2 separate regions of the Homo sapiens genome follow, and region 2 is linked to region 1. The links come from fine-mapping of genetic effects on gene expression. Tissue or cell type: whole blood. Region 1 holds a variant in brackets; the other region holds the start of a gene. All regions are shown on one strand. Distances are between the middles of the regions.

What was found. PIP is the estimated chance that this variant, and not a neighbour inherited with it, causes the effect.
Region 2: SNAPC1 starts here. The variant in region 1 is fine-mapped to the expression of SNAPC1 in whole blood (TOPMed, PIP above 0.99).

Annotation. Positions count from the first base shown.
Region 1 is chr14:61,789,441-61,797,640 of GRCh38, forward strand. It overlaps SNAPC1 (small nuclear RNA activating complex polypeptide 1), which reads left to right. Exons shown (of 10, transcript NM_003082.4): 9 at 3,367-3,462; 10 at 5,509-6,988. The coding sequence ends at 5,543. Among named protein-coding and RNA genes, the nearest start is that of SYT16, 19 kb to the right of the region's middle. The variant TA/T (reference allele first, on the strand shown) is at 3,403.
Region 2 is chr14:61,757,928-61,766,103 of GRCh38, forward strand. SNAPC1 (small nuclear RNA activating complex polypeptide 1) reads left to right here and starts at 4,493. Exons shown (of 10, transcript NM_003082.4): 1 at 4,493-4,661. The coding sequence starts at 4,534. RefSeq lists enhancers at 2,487-3,231, 3,232-3,975, 3,819-3,908, 3,976-4,719, 4,720-5,463.

The sequences.
Region 1 (8,200 bases):
AGTATTACCAGTGGTTAATTTTCAAGGATAGTATAATGAGAAACTACCCATAAATGTCTGTAACGTTTGGATTTTGTATAACCAAGTGTTACTTTAGTAATCAGTAGAAATCCAAAGACCTTTTTACAAATAAGGTAAACATAATTTCATAGACTCAGACAAGTAGAGGGGCTGGTGTGAAAAAGGCAAAGTAGCTGGGAAGTATAGAGTGAGGGGTCCATTTAGGCTGGATTGTAAAGGGGATATGTTGGGGAGTTAAATGTTAAAAGTGCTGGAAAAATATGTTGAGGATTGTATTGTGACCAGGCCTTAAATGTGGAATCAAGAAGTTTACACTTCAATTGGTAGGCAGAGGGGGAGTCAGCTGAAACTTTTGAGCAAGAAAGTGGCATGCCCAAAGTTTTCCTTGAAGAAAATCAGTCTGGGAGTAGAATGGTAGGTAGCTGGGAACAAACTGAAAATAGGAACACTAAGTAGAGGGCTGTTGCGGTAGTTCAGATTTAGGAGTAACGAGCGTGTGCCACATGGTTGTAGGAATTAGAGAAGCAAGGCTAACAGACATAAGAGCAAATACGGAGACTAGTGGAGAGGGGTGAGACAAGAATGCTTAATGTCTGAGCACCTGGGAGGATATTTGTGTCCTTGCTGGAGAAATACAATGACACAATAAAGATTTCATTGGGGGGAGAATTCGCTCCAGTCCGCCTTGCCAGACTGATTTCTGTAATAATTGCTTGGTGTATTAATGGGTGCTCAGTATATTGATGGAATTTACTTAAGCTTATGTTATTTAAGCTTTAATTATGTGCTCACCATTCCTCGAATATAACATGCATGTTGACAGGACATCAGTAATACCAGTGCTATGATGGATGAAGATGATAGCAACTACTATTTATTAACACTTTTTTTTGAGATGGAGTGTTGCTCTGTCACCCAGGCTGGAGTGCAGTGGCACGATCTCGGCTCACTGCAACCTCCACCTCCTGGGTTCAAGCGATTCTTCTGCCTCAGCCTCCCCACTAGCTGTGATTACAGGCGCTCGCCACCACGCCTGGCTGATTTTTGTATTTTTAGTAGAGACGGAGTCTTAACCATGTTGGCCAGGTTGGTCTCGAACTCCTGACGTTAAATAATCCACCCACCTCAGCCTCCTAAAGTGCTGAGATTACAGGCGCAAGCCACCGCACCCGGCTATGTAACACTTTTTATCTGACCAACTTTTTCTCACATGTCCAAGACCTTCTAGATAATACATAGCAGAACTGAGACTGGAACGAGTCTGTCTGAATCCAAGCCTGATTCTTTAACTGTCATACTGTGCTACCTCCCAGGTCACTGGAGGTGTGGATCTGGAGCTCAGATTAGACATACACTTAAGTAAATTTGTTGTTAGTTGCATTCTAGCTGCCTGACTAGTAATCATTTGTTTGGATAATCAGTAGTGGTCTATTACTGATCATTGCACCCCACACATTTAGCTTTGAGCATAGTAAAACTGCCCACCTGAGACCTTCTAGGGAGTTAGTTTTATGGATAATTGAGGTTAATGATTACAATGTTGAAATTTACTTTTTTGTTCCCTCCCGAGATGGAGTCTTGCTCTGTCGCCCAGAGCTGGAGTGCAGTGGCGCGATCTCGGCTCACTGCAACCTCCGCCTCCTGGGTTCAAGCAATTCTCCTGCCTCAGTCTCCCGGGTAGCTGGGATTACAGGCACCCACCACCATGCCCAGCTAATTTTTGTATTTTTAGTAGAAGCAGGGTTTCACCATGTTGGCCAGACTGGTCTCGAACTCCTGACCTTGTGATCCACCCACCTCAGCCTCCTAAAGTGCTGGGATTACAGGCATGAGCCACCACCCCCAGCCAAAATTTACTTTTTAAAAATTTAATTATTTTTTGCTATCTTTCTCAAATATATTGCATTCTCTTTTATATGTTTCCTTTTTTCTACATTTATCATTTTTGTAATTATAAATACATTAAAGTCAAATATATTTTATGCTCTTATTTTCTGGAACACTGTATCCTTAACATAATTTAATTTTCTCCTGACAAGTCATGGTCACCATCATGAGGATTATGTTACTGGGTTTTATAATGTAATGATTCTATCAAGAAATAGGCCGGGCACGGTGGCTCACGCCTGTAATCCCAGCAGTTTGGGAGGTTGAGGCAGGTGGATCACTTGAGGTCAGGAGTTTGAAACCAGCCTGGCCAGCATGGTGGAACCCCCATCTCTACTACAAATACAGAAATTAGCTGAGCGTGATGGCATTCACCTGTAGTCCCAGCTACTCAGGAGGCTGAGGCATGAGAATCATTTAAGCCTGGGAGGCGGAGGTTGCAGTGAGCTGGGATTACGCCACTGTACTCCAGCCTGGGCTACAGAGAGACTCTGTCTCAAAAAAAAAAATAGCTTAAGTGTGCGGCAGTTTATATTAAATGGCTTCATGCCACAATGCTTTGTTCTTATGTCTTTTTAAAAAAAGAAAATAGTGTTTCTGTTACACTTATTGTAGTGAACATCTTTCTGTTCTCAGTGTGCAGGCTCAGGAGGCAGAGGCAGGAGAATTGCTTGAACCCAGGAGGCAGAGGTTGCAATGAGCCAAGATCGCGCCACTGCACTGCAGCCTGGGTGACAGAGTGAGACTCCATTAAAAAAGAAAAAAAAAAAAAAGCAAGATATAACATATCAAATGATAAAAGTGTTGGGGCAAAGAAAAACAGCATAAAAAATAGTCACTGTTTATGGGGGTTGCTTTTGGGACATGGAAATTGTGTGCTAAATGGTACTTGATATGACAATGGTATCTGATAAATTTGGTTGGGATACTTCTTCAGGTAACAGAAGGTTGATGTAGAGAACCTCTAGTGTTTTTGAAAATGGAAAGTCAATCGCAAATTATGACTAGAGGAATATATCTTGTAGAGCATATGTGGTGAGAAAAGAAAGTATGTTCACATCCAAAAGTAAGGCTGTTAAACTCAAAAATTACATTTGTAATTAATTTAATAAAGTTGAAGTAACATATGTGATTATTCTTTGATGGCTGCAGATATAACCCCTGTCATGTGTGGTAAAGATTAAATATGGTATTTGTGTTTGGCTAATTTTGTTTATTCCTTTTTTCTCTGTTTTCTCTAGTGGAAGAACTAGAGACTATTTTCAAAGTATAAATACAAATATGTTAGTATTTGAAAAAATATAGGTATTCTAGAATGCGTATTTCTGTTACCATTACAGTTTCAGTTTTTACATGTCTAATTTTTATGCTGTAATAATGACAGTTTTTGTAAAATGTTTTCTCAAAGATTATAATATTCTTTGCTTTCATATAAAATCATTTTCTAAATATTTCTAGGCAATGTGCAGAATATACACAAGGAAGATAAACCTT[TA/T]AGTCTGAGTATGCCTGTAATTACAGAAGAAGAAGAGAATGAAAGTTTGAGTGGAACAGGTACAGATAAAATTTGGTCAAACTAGTCAAGTAAACTAACTTATACTCGTAGAGCATCAAGGTTTAGAACCCTTGAGGAACATGACAGTTTGCTGTGTGTTCTTGTGATCCTTTCATCTTTGACCCATTGGAGAATTTCAGTATTAGTCATATCATTAATGACATCTCAAAGTCAGGGATAATACAATAAATGAATGGTATGGATACCCATTAGGTATCCTATCAGTTTCATCTTTGTAGAGATGTCTCTGTCAGACCTCTGACCTGCTTTCATCTGGACAGTGTTCCAGTACTTCTAATCCTGACTGCTGCTCTCTTCCAGGAATTTGTTTTCTTTATTTTTTTTTCATGAGACAGGGTCTTGCTGGGTTGCCCAGGCTGGAGTGCGGTGACTTGATCACAGTGACTTACTACAGCTTCGACCTCCCCGGCTCAGGCTATCCTCCCCTCCCGCCTCAGCCTCTTGAGTCACTGGGACTGAAGGCACATGCCACCATGCCTGGCTAATTTTTGTATTTTTTGTAGAGACAGGGTCTCACTGTGTTGCCTAGGCTGGTCTCAAACTCCTGGGCTCAAGTGATCCACTTGCCTCAGCCTTCCAAAGTACTGGGATTACAGGCATGAGCCACCGTGCCTGGCCTAGGAATTTGTTTTCATCTTAATTTGTTTTTTTTACTTGTCTTTTCTCTTTTTCTTTTTCTGCCATTTCCCTTTTGTTTTTCACTGGTGGGGAATATTTTTTTTTCTTTTCTTTTTTTCTTTTTTTTTTTTTGAGACAGAGTCTTGCTCTGTCACCCAGGCTGGAGTGCAATGGCGTGATCTCAGCTCACTGCAAACACCATCTCCCAGGTTCACGCGATTCTCCTGCCTCAGCCTCCCAAGTAGCTGGGATTACAGGCACTCACCATCATGCCCGGCTCATTTTTGTATTTTTGTAGAGATGGGGTTTCACCGTGTTGGGCAGGCTGGTCTTGAACTCCTGACCTTAAGTGATCCGCTTGCCTTGGCTTCCCAAAGTGCTGGGATTACAGGTGGGAGCCACTGCACCCGGCCGGAATATTTCTTTTTGCCACATCTTTTGTAATTTTCATGTTTTTGTGTTTTCTATTACTTTCTTTGCTTTTAATGATCAGTAAACTTTAGGTTCGTGCTGTTTCTAGATGGACAATTATTCGAGTGTTGGTTCTGGCATCTCCTGTGGTAGCCAGAATGATGTGTGGTACTGGTGTTTTGGGTTACATTTCTAGGTTTAATTGAAATGAAATTGAAATCTTAGTCATTTTCTTCTTCTTAGTACTGGCCTAAATACCTTTGAGATCTAGTACCCTGGGTTCATATAATTATAGGGAGGGTGTACCCATATGAAACAACTTCACAGTAACTTATTATTAATTAGGATTTAGAATGACTAAGGGCCACTATCTCAATAGATTGATATTGCAATAGGATTGAGATCTTACTACCTTAATGGAGGTAGTATTTTTTGTTGTTATGTGTTTTTTTTGTTTGTTTGTTTGTTTTGAGATGGAGTCTCGCTCTGTCGTCCAGGCTGGAGTGCAGTGGCACGATCTTGGCTCACTGCAACCTCCACCTCCTGGGTTCAAGCAATTCTCCTGCTTCAGCCTCCTGAGTAGCTGGTACTATAGACATGTACCACCACGCCCGGCTAATTTTTTGTATTTATTTTAGTAGAGATGGGGTTTCACCATGTTAGCCAGGATGGTCTCGATCCCCTGACCTCATGATTCGCCCACCTTAGCCTCCCAGAGTGCTGGGATTATAGGCGTGAGCCACTGCACCTGGCCGATAGTATGTTTTAAACTGCTGTATCATTTTGAAGAAAAAATTCTTGAATATGTCAGGTTTAAGATTTTTTTGTTGTGTCTTTGCTGTGAGGGCATTCTTATTGTGTTGTACCAGTTAGACGTCTATGTAGTTGAAATGTGTATTATCAATTAGGTATTATCATGTAAGTGTCAGTTGTTTTTTTTGTTTGTTTTTTTTTTGTTTTTAGATCTGACTGACTTTTAAACTTTATGTCTTTAGAGTTCACTGCATCCAAGAAGAGGAGAAAACACTGAACAAAGAGCCTGGTGTAGTTTTTAATTTTGAGTTTTCTGACAGAAGAAAAGATTGATATTTTGTGTATTGAACAGGAAGACTGCCAGTATTAAAAAAATCCTTCTGGGAATCTGTAGGTTATTTCTTGGAAATTGCAATACGTAGTTCTAGAATAAAAGTACAAAAAATTAGAATAAGAATTCTTTAACATTTTCTTTAATGATTTGCATAAATGGAGATAAAACTTGTATTTAGTATGTAATAGAAAAAATTCTGTTATTCGCAGATTGTTACTATTTCCTATAAGGTTTTGTGATACTATACTGTCCTAATACAGTCTGGTAATACTATTCTATTTTATTTAAAATATTTTTTATTGAAATATTAATGTTTATTACATGCAAATAACTATTTTGTATCTACAGTCGGATAATGGATTTTTTATTTTGTATATTTATTCTATTTTGTATATTGTTAAGTGCAATAAAGTTTTTGCCTTGCTTTATTTTTTAATACATAAAACTTACATTCTCATAACGTGATTGATAACTTAGGAAGTTCACAATGTATTTTCTACTTCTGCAATTAAATATTCTTTAGTGCTTGTTTATTATTACTAAATACTAATTAAGTACTAACAAGTACTTAAATACTAATGTATTAAGTATTTAAGTACTTTCTAATAAAATCTTTAACAATAATAATGTAAATTTCAGAATGTGTCTCTGGTACAGAATAGTTGATATTAACAGAAAAAAAAAAATCTGTAGCTTCATGAATATGCCACTCTGTTAATTTCTTGTTCCAGACATTTTAATAGAGATTGCTTGAGCCATGTTGTTTGAATTGCTGCCAATAGCAGACCATATCCCTATCATGTTGTTGGCTCAACTGTTTTTTTTTTTTCCCTAATAGAGATGGAGTATCGCTATGTTGCTCAGGCTGGTCTTGAACTCCTGGGCTCAAGCTATCCTCCTGCCTCAGCCTCCCAAAGTACTGGGATTATAGGTGTGAGCTACTGTACCCAGCCTTAACCTGTTTCACAGTTGATTATACTTCATGCTGTTTTCCAGCATGGTATTATTAAGGGATTTAAAGTTTGGGTTGCATGCCTGTAATCCCAGCATTTTGGGAGGCCGAGGTGGGCGGATCACGAGGTCAGGAGATCGAGACCATCGTGACTAACACAGTGAAACCCCGTCTCTAATAAAAATACGAAAAATTAGCCAGGCGTGGTGGCGGGCGCCTGTAATCCCAGCTACTCGGGAAGCTGAGGCAGGAGAATGGTGTGAACCCAGTGAGCCGAGATCGTGCCACTGCACTCCAGCCTGGGCAACAGAGTGAGACTTCGTCTCAAAAAAAAAAAAAAGTTTGGGTTGAAGATCAAATTCGTGATATCTCTATATCTAATCTTTAAAAATCAGAATGCTAATGCTGACGCAAATAAAATTTTCATTTATTAGCATTCATGCAGTCACAATTGTTTCCTTTGATTCCTTTGACTTCAAATATATTTGGTCATAGAGGGGGCAGTTTTCATAATGTAGACATTAGGTGGAGCATCTTGGATTTAAACATTCTAGGGTTGGGGTGTAGATCCATTATTGGCCCCACTTGATATACTAGGTTGTTTGCCAGAACTTGTCTGACTGTTAAAAGTTTATAGACATTGTACAGCTAACACACTGAGTTGCCCTCTCTTTTTTCATAACTGTACTTATAAAATACATGCTATTGTTTCACTTGTACCTCAAGATGGTTAGTGCCCTGCCCCCATTCACAAAGTTAGTAAGTCATGCTTCTGAGTTATAAACACAGGGCTCAGTCTTATAATTTCAGTTTTTTTAAATAAGCCAACACGTGGAAATCCAGAAAGATACTTTTTTAACTATAAGCAGTAAAACTCCACTTCAAAATGGCTTAAACGAGAAGGAAAATTTATTAAAATCAGGTGAGTTCCAACAAAGGCTGGCTCTGGCTTATATAGTACATCAGTTCCGTGATGGCTTCATATACCTAGGTTTCCGTTTTTTCCTTTTTTTTTTTTTTTTTTTTTTTTTTTTTTGAGACGGTTTTGCTCTGTCACCCAGGCTGGAGAGCAGTGATGTGATCCTGGTTCACTGCAGCCTCAATCTCCTGAGATCAAGCTATCTTGCCACCTCAGCCTCTTGAGTAGCTGAGTCTACAGGTGTGTGACCACATGCTTGGCTAATTTTTTTTTTTTTTTTTTTTGATACAGAGTCTCCCTCTGTCACCCAGGATGGAGTGCAGTGACATGATCCTGGCTCACTGCAACCTCCGCCTCCCGGGTTCAAGCGATTCTTCTGTCTCAGCCTCCCGAGTAGCTGGGATTACAGGCATGCATTACCATGCCCGGCTTTTATATTTTTAGTAGAGATGGGGTTTCACTATGTTGGCCAGGCTGGTCTCAAACTCCTGACTTCAAGCGATCTACCTGCCTTGGCCTCCCAAAGTGCTGGGATTACAGGAGTGCACCACCGCACCCGGCCGCAATAGTGAGTTTTTCATGAGTATATGTTGAAGATAAGGTATGAATCAGTTGATAGACTTGCTTTAAATATGAAATTGAAGTTCATTGAACAGAGTTCAATCTGTGTTTTACAGTGAGTTTTCAAAATTAAAGTATGAAGTCCAAATACTAGTTATCTATTAAGCT
Region 2 (8,176 bases), 32 kb before region 1:
ATATGAAAAGAAACAGGAAAATTTGATCCATACACAGGAAAAAAGGATGCAAGAGAAATTACATAACAGAGGGCTCGATGGCTGACTTTTTAATAAAGACTTTAGAGCAGTCATTAAAAGTATATTCAAAGAATCAAAGGAAACTCTGCGTAAAGATGTAAAGGAATGTATGGTGACAATAATTCATCAAATACAGAACACAAATAGCTAGAAATTATTTTTAAAAGAGCCAAATAGAAATTCTGGAGCTAAAAAGTAAAATAACAAATAAAAACATCACTTCATTGAGCACCTACTGTGTATCAAGTACTTATAGGTGCTGATGGTACATTAGTGAACAAACACACACCCATTCTCCCAGGTTTATCTTTAACAGTATGGGAAGTCTTAGCCTGGGAAATGAAGTAAGAGGGAAAGAAATAAAAGCGATAAGGACTGGAAAGGAAAAAGCAAACTATTATTACTACTGTTATTCACAGCTGCAGATATCATCTATATAGAAAGCCTAAAAGAATCAATAGAAAAATTATTATAAGAGTTTAAACAAGGGGACTGGATACTAAATAAATATATATAATTCAATTGCATTTTTATATATTGGAATCAAGCAGTTAGAAAATGTAAGGCAAAGATACTAAATACAATAGCCACACAAAAACATAAGACATATAAGAAAAATCTAACAAAAGACAAGTAAAAAGTTCAGGGAGAAAAATTATGAAACTTCAGTAAAGATGCTACAGGTGACTTAAAGAAATGTTTGTGGATAGAAATAATACAATAAAGATATTATTTTGGCCAGGCGCAGTGACTCATGCCTGTAATCCCACCACTTTGGGAGGCAGAAGCGGGTGGATCATTTGAGGTCAGGAGTTTGAGACTAGCCTGACCAACATGGTGAAACCTCAATCTCTACCAAAACTACAAAATTAGCTGGGTATGGTGGCACATGCCTGTGATCCAAGCTACTTGGGAGGCTGAGGTAGGAGAATCACTTGAACCCTGGAGGTGGAGGTTGCAGTGAGCTGAGATCGCGCCATTGCACTCCAGCCTGGGCAACAAGAATGAAACTCCATCTCAAAAAAAAAAAAAAAAAAAAAAAGATGTTATTCCTTCCCAAATTGACTTACAGATTTAATGTAATTCAATTGAAATCCCAATGGCGCTATCAGAGAAATTTGACAAGTCAAATTTAAAATTTATATGAAAAAGTGAAAATTCAAGAATAGTCAAGATACTCTGTAGTAATTAGTGTGGTGTTAGAGAAGTGAAATCTAAATGGAGCCTTGAAAGTAGATAACAACCCTAGGAGTAGACTGAAGCTGGAGCCGGCACTGAAGGTTCCTTCCTGTGCCAGGCTTAACCACTTCAGTTTTAGAGGCTGGGAGGTTGAGGGATTTGTGGCCTGGGGGGCCCAAGTGTTTGGGATGAGGGTAGTAAGGAGGCTTAGAGTGGTAACTGTTATACTAACAGTAATGGAAATACTGCACTATGGTTTGGTATTTTAATAACAGGTACAAAGCCATAGTTGTGTACTGTTTGCAATTAGCCATGCAACTTGACATATAACAGAAGTGAATTTTGGGAAAGGATGGACTTTTCAATAACAGATGCTGGAAAATTATACATACGGGAAATACATATACATACATATGGTTATACATATGGAAAAAAGTGAAATAGGATCCTTATACCATACATAGAAATAAATTTTTAGATGGATGACAGTAAATTAAAAGTGAAAGGTAATACTTTCAGAGTTTCTGAATAAAATTGCAGCAGACATGTTGGCAGTCTGTTCTGGTCTGAATGTCTCCCAAAATCAATGTGTTGAAACTTAATTAACAATGTGATAGCATTAAGAGGTAGGGCCTTAGCAGGTAATTAAGTCATGAGGACTCATGAATGGGATTAGTGATTTTATAAAAGGGCTGGAGGGAACTAGCTAGGCCTCTTTTGTCCTTCCGCTATTATGCCATGTGAGGACACGGCAACAAGGTGCCATCTTGAAAGCAGAGAGCAGCCCTCACCAGGCACGGAATCTGCCAGCACCTTGATCTTAGATTTCCCAGCCTCCCAGAACTGTGAGAAATAAATTTCTGTTGTTTGTAAGCTACCTATTCTATGGTATTTTGTTATAGCAGCAGAAATGAGCTAATACGTGGTCCAACAAAGACGTGTGCACCTCTTCCAGCGATTGAAACTATTGTTGGGGAGAGGTTGCCTAATTAGTGATGACGTTTCTCAGCCACCTTTGCACCTGAATGGGTCCATGTGACTGAGTTCTGGCCAATGGAATGTGGACTGAAATGGTGTATAACAGTGCTTCTCAAATTATCTGTTGTAATGAACCATTTCCCAAATGGTTCCCCCACTCTATCATGGGGGAAATAATGCATTTTGGCTCACTGCAACCTCTGCCTCCCAGGTTCAAGTGGTTCTCCTGCCCCAGCCTCCCAAGTAGCTGGGATTACAGGCACACGCCACTACGCCTAGCTAATTTTTGTGTTTTTATTAGAGACGGGGTTTCACTATTTTGGTCACGCTGGTCTCGAACTCTTGACCTGGTGATCCACCCACCTCAGCCTCCCAAATTGCTGGGATTACAGGCGTGAGCCACTGCGCCCAGCCAGTTGCAATACCATTTTCATAAAACTCAAAACCAACCACAACTAAAAAATATACCGTTTAAATATACATACATATGTGATAAAATATATACATGAGAAAGAGAAACAAAATTCAAGGTAGTTATTTATTTATTTTTTGAGATTCGGTCTCACTCCGTAGCCCAGGATGGAGTGCAGTGGCACGATCTCGGCTCACCACTGCAACCTCTGTCTCCTGTAACCACCATCTCCCAGGCTCAAATGATCCTCCCACCTCAGCCTCCCGAGTAGCTGGGACTACAGGTGTGCACCACCATGCCCGGCTAATTTTCACCATGTTTCCCAGGCTGGTCTCCAACTCTTGTGCTTAAGCAATCCTCTTGCTTTTGTCTCCCAAAGTGTTGGGATTTCAGGCGTGAGCCACCGTGCCCAACCAGTAGCTGTGATTAAAGTAGGGTACAGTCAAAGGAATAGGTCAGAGGAGGAAATCGCAGATTGATGTGAAGGCGTTGGTAATGTTCTGGTTCCTACACAGGTGAAAGGTGTACAGGTGTTTAACTGCTATGCTTTTTATCTCACACATCGCATAAATTTTTCTGTGACATAAAATATTACATAACATTTAAAAAACAGGTCAAGAGGGCAGGGTGCAGTGGCTCACGTCTGTAATCCCAACACTTTGGGAGGCCGAGGGGAGCGGATCACCTGAGGTTAGCAGTTCGAGACCAGCCTGGCCAACATGGTGAAACCCTGTCTCTACTAAAAATACAAACAAAACAAAACAAAACAAAATCCGGTTGGAGTGGTGCATGCCTGTAATCCCAGCTACTCGGGAGGCTGAGGCAGGAGAATCGCTTGAACTCGGGAGGCGGAAGTTGCAGTGAACCGAGACCGCGCCACTGAACTCCGGCCTGGGCAACAAGAGCGAAACTCCGTCTCAAAACAAAAAACAAACAAATCCAAACAAACAAACAAACAAACAAAAACAGGTCAAGGATCAGAAAAGTAAAGTGAGTTGACACTCCATTTACACACAGAAAGCCCAATGTTTTTCTATTATATCAGGATACCTCTTCTAAAGAATGATAGCTTACCTTTCAATCAGAGAAATGATCTAAAGTTCAAAATGTTACTCCATAGCTAGCTCCTGGAGGAAGGAAGCTAGGTGGCAGCGTGTACACAAAAAGGCAATTCATCCAAATAATAATATAACAAGAATATAACAAGTAGGTATTTTCTGCTAAGTGCTATGTAGCACAGGGGTGAATGCGTGGCAGGGCAGGAGGAGGGCTGTTTACAAGAGGGTATGAAATGCAGCTCTTCTTTTCAAGAGTGGTTGCAGAATGCCAGGGCTACAAAGAGAGGGCCGCACATTAAGCATCGTATTATGTGGGTACAGAGTATTAGGGTTCTCGATGACCAGAAGGAGAATGAGTGCAGTTTGTTTCCTAGCAAGCCTTCTTTAGCTTCTCTTCCCAAGTGGGAGTGGGGTTGGGGTTGGGACTGTTCTTTCCTAGCTCAAAAGTTCACTTATGTCACACTAGGGTCAGTTTAAAGGAGAGTGCTAGTAAGGGTAAAGTCAAGTTACATAACCTAGCGGAAAATGAAGACCTAAAACCGCTCGTGAGCAAACACAACACTTTAGACGTAAACCTCTTCCAAAGAAGGGTGGATCTCAGCACTCTGGGTGAAAGCAATCTCAGCCAGTAAAACATCAGAACGCTTTCACGCACGCGCAGTAAGCACACGACCGGTGGCAAGAGCCCGGATAAAGGCGGAGCTAAAGGTGCCGGATAATGCATCACGGAGCGCGTGTGCGCACGCCGTAGGGGGCGGGCCGTTCGGGCTTGGTTTCCTGGGCGACCACCGCTGGCTAGTCCGTTAGAGGCGTGCGGGCTTCGGAGGCGTGCGGGCTTCGGGTGCCATGGGGACTCCTCCCGGCCTGCAGACCGACTGCGAGGCGCTGCTCAGCCGCTTCCAGGAGACGGACAGTGTACGCTTCGAGGACTTCACGGAGCTCTGGAGAAACATGAAGTTCGGGACTATCTTCTGGTGGGTGTTTCTTGTCCACCACCCGCCTCTCCCTGCCCGCAGGTGGTGTAGAAAGTTGCCTCCTTCCCGGCGATATTGCACTTGTGAAGGGCTGAGAAGAGCGGCAGTCACCGAAGGTTGCCTCCATGACTCCTGGACCTTCCCCTGTGCTCAGGCAACGCGCTTTCCCTGCTCTATTTCATTGTGCCCTGATGGTTGTTGCGGCCTCCTCCCAAATATGCGTCTCTGCCTGGCCTCCCTTCTAAACTCCTCTCTCCCATCTCCACCCTGAGCCAGGCCACTATCATTTGCCCTTCCCCAGTCTTGTTCTAGGACCTGATGTTTAAAAACACACAAGCAAAGACAAAACCCTTCAAGATTGAATTAATTTTTCCTCCAACAACCAAAGTTGTCTTTTTTTTTTTTTTTTTTTTTTTTTTTGAGACGGAGTCTCCTTTTGTCGCCCAGGCTGGAGTGCAATGGCGCGTTCGCGGCTCAGTGCAACCCTTCGCCTCTCAGGTTCAAGTGATTCTCTTGCCTCAACCTCCGGAGTAGCTGGGATTACAGGTGCCCGGCACCACGCCCGGTTAATTTTTTGTATTTTTAGTAGAGACGGGGTTTTACTATGTTGGCCAGACTGGCCTCGAACTCCTGATCTCGTGACCCGCCCGCCTCGGCCTCCCAAAGCGCTAGGATTACAGGAGTGAGCCACCGCGCCCGGCCCAAAAGTTGTTTTTCAAAAGTGCAAATTTGATTATGTCACTCCCCGACTTATTACTCTGTAGTGGTGCCCATTGCCTTTGGGATAACGCTTGAATTCTCTGACTTGCCAAGACCATTCCTCACTGGCCTTTGCCTATCTCTCCAGCTTCGCCTGCCAGTCCCCTCCATGCACTCACTTTCTTGCTCCAGCAGCTGCTTTTTTTTTTTTTTTTTTTTCTTTGGGCCCTCTACAGGCTTTTCCTAATCCTGGAGTTTCCACCGCAACTCTCTTGTTTTGTCCACCTTATTCTTCACTCAGGGTTAAGCTCAAATGACATCCTCGGGGGAAGTCTTTTTTGCTCTTCTAGACTGAGTACGCTGTTCATGTTTTTTCCCCGCATAGCACCCTGTTTTTATTTTATGTCACCGCTTTCCACATTTTGTTGTAATGGTATAGTTGAAAAGGCAGTGTGGGATTGTTAAGGGCATAGGTTATGGAACCCAATTGGCTGCATTTGATTGCAGGGTCCGCTATGACTTGGGGCAAGTTACTTGAGTTTCCATATCTGTAAAATAGAGGCAATGATAAACCTCATAGTAGTTGTGAAGATTAAATGAGCTGATATATCAGAAATACATTCTAAGTGCTCAATAAATGTTCATTATTATTATTTTTTTTTCTTGAGACATAGTCTTGCTCTGTCACCCAGGCTGGAGTGTAATGGTGCGATCTCCTATCACTGCAACCTCCACCTCCCGGGTTCAAGAGATTCTCCTGCCTCAGCCTCCCGAGTAGCTGGGACTACGGCTTGTGCCACCAAGCCTGGCTAATTTTTGTATTTTTAGTAGAGACGGGATTTCACCATGTTGGCCAGGCTGGTCAAATGTTCATTATTACTACCGTTTTAAAATTTTCCTTTGACTAGACTGACCTCTGTGAGGACAGTGACTGGATGAATCTATTTTTATTACCATAGTACATATAATATTAAAAAGGCGAAATAACTGATTTTCTGAATGAGTTAAACCTTATGATTAAAACTTTTTCTGAACAAAATGTAAAAACTCATTTTCTCTCTGTCAGTGTAAGCAAATTACCTTTGTAGTTTTTTAAATTGCAAGGAATGGAGGATGAAGAGCTGTTTGTTGTACAGTTAATAAAAGGAGAGAGACTTTTTTTTTTAAATGGCTACTACATGCCATTTATTTATAGCTTTATTTATTGCATAAGACAGTTATAAAAAGCAGGTATAATTATCCTTGTTTTATAGATGAGGAAATTAAGGCTTAAAGAGGTTAAGTAATTTCTCCACCATTACAAAGATAGTGGATTGTAGAGCAGATGTTGGAAACTATGTATCTGCCTGTTTCTAAAATCCGTTAATATTCCACTGTACCACTTCTTGGGGGGAAAAATGCATTTAAGGAAAAAGCTAAAAATGTAACATTTACATTTTCTAGTAGGGAGAACCTAAAATGATAAAAGAAGCAGGAATCACTAGAGTGGTGGATTTTCTTGAGAAATTACTTTGGTTACCGTAACTAGAGTAGGCATTTTGTATTCTTTTCCTATATTTATTATTTGAAGACCCAAAATGTCCTCCTACTACCCCCTTCCCTTCCACCCCTGCATTGTAATCAGATATAATAGAGCCCGTGTTTATGGCTGCAGGGCAAATGTCTTTATTGTTTGTTGCTGGTTTTAAAGTAAAAGTTCTACATATTTATATTTGTATAGCGTATTAGTCACTCGCATCAACACTTTGAGACATTTATTTTAGCTAATGTTTTATTTAAAATCTGGCATTTTTTATCTACTAATTTCAGGTCTTACATAGAAACCTATAATATGCACAAATGTGGCTTCATTGTTTTATCCAAAGTGGTAAGAAGACTGTTACATTGACTTTTTTAAGGCCTTGTTTTTTAAAATTTTTTGTTAACTTAGCACAGCAGAACAGTTTCAGATAGTTTATTCATTATGCTGTTTATATCCACAGAAAATATATGTGAACCTCGAAAATTTGAGACACGTCTCAGTTAATTTAGAAAGGTTATTTTGCCAAGGTTGAGGACGCACCCGTGACACAGCCTCAGGAAGTCGTGTTGACATGCGCCCAAGGTGGTCAGGGCACAGCTTGGTTTTGTACATTTAGGGAGACATGAGACATCAATCAATATATGCAAGAAGTACGTTGGTTCGTTCTGGAAAGGCGGGACAACTTGAAGCAAAGGCAGGAAGACTGGAAGTGGGGAGGGAGCTTTCAGGTCACAGATTGGTGATACACAAATGCTTGCGTTCTTTTGAGTTTCTGATTAGCTTTTCCAAAGGAGGCAAATCAGATATGCATCTATCTCAGTGAGCCGAGAAGTCACTTTGAATAGAATGGGAGAGGTTTGCCCTAAGCAGTTTCCAGCTTGAGTTTTCCTTAGTGATCTTGGGTGCCCAAGATACTTTCCTTTCATGTACATTTCCTATGTTATTTCATTGATTGATTGCCAACAAAGCCTTGTTGCTCTCTTGGATGTTTGGACAAAGCTTTTGGTTGTATGCTGGAGTATGCTCTTCTCCCTTCCTCCTCCTTTCTTCTGATGAGCTTGCAGTGCTCTGGACAATTAGGAGTGCGGGTTACTTTGTGCTGTTTCTCTATCTTTTTCGCCTCGGCTTCGCAAGGACAGAGGAGATTTAGTGCAAATCCCTGAGAGTATTGGAGAAAATGTTCGTTAGGTAAAAAGTAAAGTAGAGGTTCTGCTTCAAAGAGTTTCCTCCCCATCTAATTAAGACTAAATAGTAACTTATCTTAGAAGCAAAATTTATTCAAAGACCTATGCTA